Linked DNA regions of Homo sapiens. The protein of the gene in region 2 purifies or fractionates together with the protein of the main gene of each other region. This does not show direct contact. Each region holds a gene or a part of one and is shown on either strand. Other genes may lie near its edges.

Region 1 (3,652 bases), on a different chromosome or scaffold from region 2:
GGGTTTTGGTAAATTCAGCTAACCTTTTGGAGCCTGTAATATATGTTGACATGCTCCCAATCGACATGGACTTTTTACGTATGGGTGCGTTTCCCCGATCAAGCTGCAGAATGTCTTCCCCACGTCTCTTCCTGGTGAATCCACTGCGTTTTCATTCATTTTAAGTCCCATGAGTGGCCCGCCACTTGCTGGTGCTTAGTGTGTGTCAGGCGCTGTCCTAAGTGCCCTCCATGCACGGCAGTTCTACGACACAGGGATTGGCGCTGTCCTAAGTGCCCTCCATGGACGGCAGTTCTACGACACAGGGATTGGCGCTGTCCTAAGTGCCCTCCATGCACGGCAGTTCTACGACACAGGGATTGGCGCTGTCCTAAGTGCCCTCCATGGACGGCAGTTCTACGACACAGGGATTGGCGCTGTCCTAAGTGCCCTCCATGGACGGCAGTTCTACGACACAGGGATTGGCGCTGTCCTAAGTGCCCTCCATGGACGGCAGTTCTACGACACAGGGATTGGCGCTGTCCTAAGTGCCCTCCATGCACGGCAGTTCTACGACACAGGGATTGGCAGGTTACAACTGAGAGTCCAACGCTGGCCCACTGCCTGTTTTTTGTTTTTTTGTTGTGTTTTTTGAGACGGAGTCTTGCTGTGTTGCCCAGGCTGGAGTGCAGTGGTGTGATCTCGGCTCACTGCAACCTCCGCCTCCCAGGTTCAAGCGATTCTCCTGCCTCAGCCTCCCGAGTAGCTGGGATTACAGGCATGTGCCACCACACCTGCTAATTTTTTGTGTTTTTAGTAGAGATGGGGTTTCACCATGTTGGCCAGGCTGGTCTCAAACTCCTGACTTTGTGACCTGCCTTGGCCTCCCAAAGTGTTGGGATTATAGGCGTGAGCCACTGCTCCCGGCCACTGCCTGTTTTTGTAAGTAAAGATGGATGGCGGTGCAGCTGGCCTCACTGTGCAGCGCCTCCTTCCTGGGTAGGGACGTGTGGTGGGCCTTGGGGAATAGGAACCGTGGGTTATGGATCTAAGGTTGCTTCTCTTACCAGGCTGAGGAGCTTGACTCTTCTGAAGGTGATGGGGTGCTCTGGCAGGGGCTGAGCTGAGGGCAACCCAGTGATAGTGGCTGCCGAGCTCCTCTCAGGCGCCCCCTGCACCAAGATGGCCTGGTCACCATGGGAGGGGACATTGCTCCATCTTACAGATGAGGAAAGAGCTTCGGGACAATGGGGATCCCTGCTGGGTCTTCCCCACACAGCCTCTGCTCCAGGTGTGATGCTTTGTAGATGCAGCCGCTGCAGAGGTATGGGGCCCTGTTTCCCCGCCCAACTCTTGGAACATCCCTGCCAAGCAGGGCTTGTCCTCAGTGATGAGTGGAGGAACTCAAGACTCCGAGAAGATTCCTTTGAAGTTGTTGTCATGTAACAGCGGCTGACCCCACTGACAGTGCTCACAGTGTGTGTCTGGGCTGGGTGGGTCCTGTTGTGGGCATTGAGTCTGGCAGATGCCCGGGCCATGGGGACTGCCGTGCCTGTTCTCACGTCCTCGATTGAATCAGCACTTGGCCTGAGCTGTTCTCACACACGTGGCTCACACGATGGGCACCAGGGTTCTTCCCATTCTACAGATGAAGACACTGAGGCCCTTGGAGGCTCATATGGTACAAACAAGACTTGAACCCAAGGAGCCATGAACCCAGGGAGCCCAACTCTTGTATCCTTGGCTCTGTGTTGCTCAAGTGAGACGGGCAGAGCCAGGGCTCGCGGCTGAGCTTCCAGTGTGACCCATTCTTCCTTGGACCCAGGCAGAGCCTGCAGCCTGCCATGCTGCCTGTGGGGAGTCACAGCTGAGTGTGGGCTCTGGAGGCTGCCTTTTTCCTGCCTGTGTGTCTTTGCTCTGTGCCTCAGTTTTTGCCTTCTGTGCTGTATGTATAGCATTGCAGTAGGAGGTTGAAAGTCTTACAGGATGCCTGGCCCATGGGGTGAGTGCCCGGTGTGTGTTCCTGCTCCCGGGCTGCTGCTACTTGTCCCTGTAGCATAGGAGCTGGGTCTCCTGGGGTCTGTGTGGCCCCAGTCTGGTGGTTGGAGCTGGCTGGGTTGGTGCTTCCAGTTCTGTGGGGGCAGCGTCATCATGGGCTGGAAGGGCTTGAGTGAGTAGGTGGGAGAGGGTGTGTGGGGGCATCTCCCCTCCTTCCATGGGCACAGCGGCTCATGCTTCTGAGGCTCTTTCCCATTTCCTGTCTTACCTATTCCTTCCCAGCATCAGGATGGAGGTGGGATGGGGCCACTCACACTTGGTGTGGAGGCTGCAGAGGAAGGGGAGGCCATATGGCCTAGGTTTTGAACTTGGGAGTCAGGCTGGTTGGTTACCGGGGCCTGGCATAGCTGATATCTGACAGGACGGCGTCAAGTTACATTGGCAGAGCCTGTGGGGTCTCAGGTTGAATCATCCCACCAGCAGGCACTTGTCTGTGAGTCCAGAGTTCAGTGGATAGGGCAGGATCGAGGGCCAGTAAATTCAGCTGATAAGCCCCCACTCTGGTATGTCAGCCCTCGAAGACACTGGATCCTGCATCCCACAGTCAGCCCACAGTTCCCAGTGAGATCAGAGCAGCTAATGCTGCGGATGCTGTTCTGAGACTTCCCGGGCAGCCGCGGCTGCTCATCGTGTCGTGCCACCCCTGTGAGGGCAGTTGCACCCCTGCAGTGGCACCTGCAGTTCTGACAGGGCGTGAAGGGAAGGGACTGAGCTTTTTTTTTTTTTTCCTTTGAGATGGAGTCTCACTCTGTTGCTCAGGCTGGAGTGCAGTGGAGTGATCTCGGCTCACTGCAACCTCCGCCTCCTGGGTTCACGCCATTCTTCTGCCTCAGCCTCCTGAGTAGCTGGGACTACAGGTGCACGCTACCACAGCCCGCTAATTTTTGTGTTTTTAGAGAGACGGGGTTTCACCATGTTGGACAGGATGGTCTTATCTCTTGACCTTGTGATCTGCCCGCCTTGGCCTCCCAAAGTGCTGAGATTACAGGCGTGAGCCCCCGCGCCCGGCCGGGACTGAGCTTTAATGGGAGCCTTGCCTGGGTGGCTGTCAGAGAAGGGGTGGGGTGTGTTGTGACTCACCAGTAGGTCCCGAGCCCAGGTGACCTGCCAGCATTCCACAGCAGCAGGTAGCAGATGTGGGTGTGAACTTTGTGCCTTTGGAGCGTTCTGGAGGATGTTCTAGTTTGAGGTTCCCCTGAGGCTGGGCAGATTTGGGAGACATGGTGCGTTCTCCCCGAGGAGCCTCTGTGTGCCACTGCCCAGGACCCTCACTGGTCAGATAAGGCTGGGGTGGGGTGGGCACGTGGCGACCCCTCCCTCGTCAGATCAGGCAGGAAGTGTTCTCTTTGGCAATTGAGGAGCTCGCCGTAGACTGTCCAGGTTTTGGGAGATAACCTGGTACTGGAATTGAAGTCCTCCTCTTCTCTACCCATAGGGGTTGTGTCCACTGTGGTCCCCGACTCTGCCCACAAGCTGTTCATCGGGGGCTTACCCAACTACCTGAACGATGACCAGGTAACTTCCCTGCCTCCCTCCAGACCCGTCCCCCCACCCCGCCCCACCTCATCCCAGCCCTGATGGACTCTCGGCTACTGCAGGTCAAAGAGCTGCTGAC
Region 2 (3,652 bases):
GGTTAGTACATTTAAATTAAAGAGGAAATATGTATTGACAATGAAGAAAAAAAGTATCTAATCATCTGTTCTAACAATCAACTACCCATGTAATCAAATGCAGAGAAAACAGGTAACAGTATATATGCAAAATATAATTTTTAATAATAGCATATTATATACTACCGTTACTACATTCCCCATATCATAATTAACAGCACCAATGCAGGAAAAGAATTAAAATATAAAAGACAAACCACAAAGAGTAGTTTACTACTATGAGAAGAAAAAGGGACTCCACAAGGAAACAAGTATGCATCAGAAGTGGACAGTCTCAAAATAATATTATTCATCAATGGTCACACCCTGATTTAATAATAAAATCAGCACCTAGTAAAACATTTCAAATCCAGAGTTCAATCTAGTTACTGAAAGAGGAAACAAGAATATGTGGCAAGACAACCTGGGCCATACCAGTAAGACAACTCTAAAGACTATCCAATTCCATCAGATTTGTCAGCTTCAGAATCTTGATTTTTTTTGACTAACAAAGCTTTCTTCCAAAAGCATAAAGCATATCAATCAACATTCATCTTACTTAATATTACCTGTGGATTAATGTTTCCAAGGTATAAATTAGTAGTGCTTGGATCTCCTACATCATGTGAGCCAGGTGCGTAATCATCAAGAACTAGGGCAGAAAGAAAAAAAGAATTATAACCTGCAAAACATAAAGTTTGGAAAATTTATCGATTAAAAGAGCAAAAAACTGTATTACCACCAGATGATCTATTTCTTCTTGAAGGCGCGTCCACTTAAAGGGGAGAAAAGAAGACAATTATTAGTTTTTATAATACAGTAGTCCCCCCTTACCCTCACCTTTGTTTCCCCCAGTTTGTTACAGTAAGGTATTTCTGAGAGACAAAAAGAGAGACCACTTCACACAACTCTGTTGTTGTTGTTGTTGTTTTTTGAGACAGACTCTTGCTCTGTCGCCCAGGCTGGAGTGCAATGGCACGTTCTCGGCTCACTGCAACCTCTGCCTCTCAGGTTCAAGCAATCCTTCTGCCTCAGCCTCCTGAGTAGCTGGGATTACAGGCACGCACCACCACGCCCGGCTAATTTTGTATTTTTAGTACAGACAGGGTTTCATCATGTTGGCCAGGCTGGTCTCGAACTCCTGACCTTAGGTAATCCACTTGCCTCGGCCTCCCAAAGTGTTGGGATTGCACATAACTTTTATTTCAGTATATTGTTATAATTGTTCTATTACTTATTGTTGTTAATCTCTTACTGTGCCTAATTTACAAATTAATTTTTACCACAGCTATGAATGTGTAAGGAAAAGGATAGTATATATCCATGGTTTCAGACATCCACTGGTGATCCTTGGAATGTAACCCGCCACGGATAAGGTGGGAACTACTGTAATTAATCACAAGCATACACATTAAAATAAATGCCACTTACTAGAACGACGCTGACCATCAGAATCTGACTGAGGAGGTTCAAATCGACTTAATCTGCCTTTTGTTTTATGTCTCTCATCACGTTCCTCTTGAATTCTGTTGAAAATATTTACAATCACTTATAATGAGCCAAAATTTGTTCATTCACATTTCAGAATAGCGCTTATCAAATTACTATCATCAAATAACTAGAAATATCTGTAATTAAATACTGGTACTGATAACCAAGATTAGAGGGTCCCTCAGCTATAATACAACCACGAGCAAATTTCTGATATATCATACTACCAATGGAACACAAAGCCTACTTTAAAGGTGAGGAGGAAATTAAACACTAAAACCACTGAATTTGTTTCTTGCTAAGTCTAACTGCCCCTCACTCCCATCCCAGTGAGTATACTGTTTCCACTGCAAACAGGACTCTGGACATTAAGTAAATCAATTGAACTGAATCCTCGTAATGCAAGCAACCCAGGTGCTGGACTAAATGCTAATTTATTTTCAAAGATAGCCCACCAAATATTATAATATCTAAAACAATCTCATAGCAAACTGGTTAGTAATAACTAACTGGTACAGTATATTCTTTATACTTGCATCTGTTTATGTATCAGCTCAATACACCTATGATAGTTATTCTCCACACTATAAAACTTACTGCTTTAATTCTTCTTTGAAGAGTTCCAAATTGCTTTTTTTCTTTTCTTTCTCTCCTTTTTTAAGTGGCTATAAAGGATATGACAAGTTATACTTCAAACAAAAGGATAAGCAAAACCAATGATTCAATAATAAGAGCCTTTTTACATCATTTCAGTACAAATTGTATGTTCTAATTATTTAAATTAAAAAGGAAGAATGCTTTTCTTATCATTGAACCTCCCTTCCCCTTCCTTCAAAATAACAAACAATTAAATTATTACTACAATTAAACAATTAAAATGACAACCAGTAGTCAGGGAAATTAATGAACATGAAGTAACTGAACTGCCATGGAAAGTAACTGCCAAAAATACGCACTCTTCAAAAATCACCTCTGGAGGACATGAGTTACTGGAACAGTAAGTAACATCTTTGGAATCCTCTTTTAAAACTGCTTCTTAATCTACTTTTGGAATCCTTCTTTTAGAAGTGCCAACATAATTTAATAGGGAAGAATAATCTTTTCAACAAATGGTGCTTGGACAACTGAATATCTACATACAGAAAAATGAAGTTGGACTTCTACTTTACACCATATACTAAATGTACAAAAATTAACTCAAAATGGTTCATGGACATAAAAGTAAGAGCTAAAACTATAACACTTTTGGGAGAAAACCACAGGAATGAATATTCATAATCTTGAATTAGGTGATGGTTTCTTAGATATGACACCAAAAGCGTAAACAAAAGAAAAAAACTGATAAATTGGACTCCATTAAAGTTTAAAACCTCCATGCTTCCATCAAGAAAATGCAAAGACAACCCAGAGAACAGAAAACATTTCCAAATCATATAGCTGATAAGAACCTTGACTCAAGAAGATGTAAAATACTCTTACGATTCAACAACAAAAATACAAATAACCCAATTAAAAAGTGGGCCAAGTATCTGAACAGACATTTCTCCAAAAGAAACTTATAAATGGACAATAAACACATGAAAAGATGCTCAATATAATCAAGTACATGCAAATCAAAACCACAATGAAGTACAACTTCACACACACTAAAATGACTAAAATAAACTTTTCAAACAAAATAGTTTTGTTTGTTTGTTTGTTTGTTTTTGAGATGGAGTTTCGCTCTTGTTGCCCAGGCTGGAGTGCAATGCTGTGATCTTGGCTCACCACAACCTCTGCCTCCCGAGTTCAAGCGATTCTCCTGCCTCAGCCTCCCGAGTAGCTGGGATTACAGGCATGCACCACCATGCCCGGCTAATTTTGTATTTTTAGTAGAGACGGGGTTTCTCCATGTTGGTCAGGCTGGTCTCAAAGTGTTAGTGTACGACGTGAGAAAACTGGAACCCTCATACATTACTGGTGGAACTGTAAAGTGATACAACCACTTTGGAAAAACTGGCAGTTTCTCAAAAGGCTAAACATAGTTACCATGTGACCCAGCAATTCCACTTCTCGGTGTGTGTATATACATGTATCCAAGAGAACTGAAAACATAAGTTCACACAAAAAAAGCCCACACATGAATGTTTACAGCAGCATTATT
Region 3 (3,652 bases), on a different chromosome or scaffold from region 2:
AGATCGAGACCATCCTGGCCAACATGGTGAAACCCTGTCTCTACTAAAAATACAAAAATTAGGCAGGCGTGGTGGCACACACCTGTAATTCCAGCTACTCAGGAGGCTGAGGCAGGCGAATTGCTTGAACCTGGGAGGCAGAGGTTGCAGTGAGCCAAGATCACACCACTGCACTCCAGTCTGGGTGACAGAGTAAGACTCCGTCTCAAAAAAAAAAAAAAAGTTAATTAGAAAATATGGCTTAATTGTTGAGCCATAGTGAATCTTGAGTAATTAAAGCAAAAGTCCTCAAGTGGAAGCTATTCTAAAGGATATATTAGATATATGAAATGTTAGATGACTTCACATCTATTCAGTGCACTGAATTAGTAATTTAGTTTCTAATGGGCCGGTGAATATTTCCTGTAAAACTAAGACTGTATCTTTAAGGATTTTTCCCCCTTTCTTATAAGACCGCATCTTAAAGGACTTTTTTCCCTTCCGTTGTAGAGACCTTGTACACAGACAGACGGCTAGTGCAGTGGTACAGCACATGTCACTTGGGGTTTATGGATTTGGTTGTGAAGATTCGCTGAATCACTTGTTGAACTATGTATGGCCCAATGTATTTGAGACATCTCCTCATGTAATTCAGGCAGTTATGGGAGCCCTAGAGGGCCTGAGAGTTGCTATTGGACCATGTAGAATGTTGCAATATTGTTTACAGGTAAGTTAAAGATTTTTTTTTTAATCGGTGATTTTTTTTTTTTAAATAATACTTTAAGTTCTGGGATACTTGTGCTGAACGTGCAGGTTTGTTACATAGGTATATATGTGCCATGGTGGTTTGCTGCACCTATCAACCTGTCATCTAGGTTTTAAGCCCTGCATGCATTAGGTATTTGTCCTAATGCTCTCCCTCCCCTTTCCCCCCACTGCCTGTAAGTTAAAGATTTTTAAAAGATTACTTAGCAAGAAAAGTAGTGTATTGAATTAAGTTACTTTTCCTGATTATCATTAGGGTATATTGTGCCATATGGTAGAACAATTGTGTGGTGACAGGGGAGTGAGTTTTGTCTCTTCCATTGCAGCTTAAGAGCAGTGTAATTAGTAGGTTCCCCCCCCCCCAACTCCCCAAGGGAAATAATTTTGAATCATATCTTTATGTTTTCTTAATTTTGTTAAGGTTATGTATGTTCTTAAAAATTGAAATAATGTAACCGTTCAATTATTTTAGGGTCTGTTTCACCCAGCCCGGAAAGTCAGAGATGTATATTGGAAAATTTACAACTCCATCTACATTGGTTCCCAGGACGCTCTCATAGCACATTACCCAAGAATCTACAACGATGATAAGAACACCTATATTCGTTATGAACTTGACTATATCTTATAATTTTATTGTTTATTTTGTGTTTAATGCACAGCTACTTCACACCTTAAACTTGCTTTGATTTGGTGATGTAAACTTTTAAACATTGCAGATCAGTGTAGAACTGGTCATAGAGGAAGAGCTAGAAATCCAGTAGCATGATTTTTAAATAACCTGTCTTTGTTTTTGATGTTAAACAGTAAATGCCAGTAGTGACCAAGAACACAGTGATTATATACACTATACTGGAGGGATTTCATTTTTAATTCATCTTTATGAAGATTTAGAACTCATTCCTTGTGTTTAAAGGGAATGTTTAATTGAGAAATAAACATTTGTGTACAAAATGCTAATTTGTGTGTGTTTTTTGAACATGACTTGTAAAATGCGGAACTTTGATAAAGTATTGGTTTATGTGGAATAAGTGGCTTAATTTCATTTTCTGTCACATGGTTTATAGAAAGTAGTTAGCTGAATAAAAACTATATAAAGTGATGGCATCTTTGTCAAAATTCCATTGTTGTGTTAATAATGACAGCAAGAAGAGTAGCCTCAGGGGATGTTCCCCTCAAACTAGCACAACCATTCCATCATCGTAGAAAAGTAGCACTTTTGCTAAACTGTCTTGAATATTTTGTACTTACATAGCGCCTTTCATCTCTTGATTTCTCAAAATGCTTTATGAACACATTTAAAGAAAGTGGTTTAAGTCTTGTCCAACACTTGACAGGTCTGCTGTGTTTAGCAAGTGAGGAATTTAACTTTACTTCAAAACTGCTTTCTGCCTATTAGGAGTGAGGATACCTAAGTAATGCTGATAGAACAGGACAATGTTGGGCTTTTCTCCATGTTATAAGCCACTACTCAGCAATGCATCAGTAAATACCTATTCACCCACTGTATGCCAGCCACTGTGCTTATATGCAGGGGATGCAAAGGTGCATGAGACCTGCCCTCTACCTTTAAGAACAGTATAATGGAGAAGGGGAGACAAACCTTGTGACAGATTCCTTATGTACTGTGATAATACACAGTGGCAGCAGCTAAAATGTCTAGGTTTGCTTAGCTTTGTATTCAGTAATAATAAGTTGATCTAAGAGTTCAGCATAAACTGAATGAAATGCCATTTAATGGTAGAGGAACCAAGCATTAAGGCAGTACTACACTTAATTTTTTAAGCAAATATGTAAAGTATATTTTCAAACTTTTCTAATGTTATGGCCCCAAATTTCTTAGTTTTGGCCTTTTTACTACCTATACTATTTTTACTGTTTTGTTTTGTCTCCATGTGGTAGTACTTCTGTGAACTCTAAAGGGAAAAAAAATTCTGCAAGCAGCATTAGTATATAACTACTACTGTAAGTAAAACTGCCTATTGACACTTTAGGAGTTCCTGCTTCAGAAGCTTAGTTAAGAAACAGCTTGTGGCCGGGTGTGGTGGCTCATGCCTGTAATCCCAGCACTTTGGGAGGCTGAGGCGGGCGGATCACGAGGTCAGGAGATCGAGACCATCCTGGCTAACGCGGTGAAGTCCCGTCTACTAAAAATACAAAAATTAGCCAGGCGTGGTGGCGGGCGCCTGTAGTCCCAGCTACTAGGGAGGCTGAGGCAGGAGAATGGCTTGAACCCGGGAGGCGGAGCTTGCAGTGAGCCGAGATAGCGCTGCTACACTCCAGCCTGGGCGACAGAGACTCCGTCTCAAAAAAAAAAAAAAAATTGACTTTCAACAAATTGATAGTGAGCATTAAGGGTTTCCAAGTTGGATTTGTAACTCCTCATCATTCCTTGTATGACAACTTTCTGAATATATGTCACTATGTAGTAAAATTAAACACTCCAAACTCATCTTTCTGTTGTTAGAAGTTTTCAGCGGTACTTCCATGCAACTTTAAATCTCACTGCTCTCTATGGTTGATGTCAAATGACCTTCAGTAATGACTGAGAATTGAATACAAATAGATTACAAAGCCAAAATTTGATGTTAAATGACTCAGGAAATTTTAGTTGTATTTTCAATTCAAGTACTTAGTAGCCTACGTTTGCTTGGCCTCTGGTTCTTTATGGAAAATAGGCTTTGTAGTGGCATTGTGGAGCAAAGGAGACTGTTACACCTTAATTAACTTTTTTTACTGATGCAAATAATTTGAGGATAGAGAGGAGGGAAGTAGTGAAAGCTATGACCTAAAACATTGGGACCAAATAGAGGCTCACAGATATTTGGATTATTTTATGTGCTTATTATTAAATAAGGAAAGCATTTTGTGATATGTGGAAGACGCTATGTGAAGTTTTACCTATCTT

What was found.
Region 1: the proteins of U2SURP (region 2) and U2AF2 purify together in Homo sapiens (affinity purification with mass spectrometry; 4 studies listed by BioGRID and IntAct, with this or other methods). This does not show direct contact.
Region 3: the proteins of U2SURP (region 2) and SF3B1 purify together in Homo sapiens (affinity purification with mass spectrometry; 4 studies listed by BioGRID and IntAct, with this or other methods). This does not show direct contact.

Annotation. Positions count from the first base shown.
Region 1 is NC_000019.10:55,665,035-55,668,686, forward strand, and holds part of U2AF2 (splicing factor U2AF 65 kDa subunit), read left to right. Parts: intron 1-3,472; coding exon 3,473-3,552; intron 3,553-3,635; coding exon 3,636-3,652. UniProt on the Homo sapiens protein: Plays a role in pre-mRNA splicing and 3'-end processing. By recruiting PRPF19 and the PRP19C/Prp19 complex/NTC/Nineteen complex to the RNA polymerase II C-terminal domain (CTD), and thereby pre-mRNA, may couple transcription to splicing.
Region 2 is NC_000003.12:143,018,491-143,022,142, reverse strand, and holds part of U2SURP (U2 snRNP-associated SURP motif-containing protein), read right to left. Parts: intron 2,175-3,652; coding exon 2,107-2,174; intron 1,545-2,106; coding exon 1,450-1,544; intron 794-1,449; coding exon 758-793; intron 671-757; coding exon 588-670; intron 1-587.
Region 3 is NC_000002.12:197,390,026-197,393,677, reverse strand, and holds part of SF3B1 (splicing factor 3B subunit 1), read left to right. Parts: intron 1-489; coding exon 490-706; intron 707-1,216; coding exon 1,217-1,375; 3' UTR 1,376-3,652. UniProt on the Homo sapiens protein: Component of the 17S U2 SnRNP complex of the spliceosome, a large ribonucleoprotein complex that removes introns from transcribed pre-mRNAs.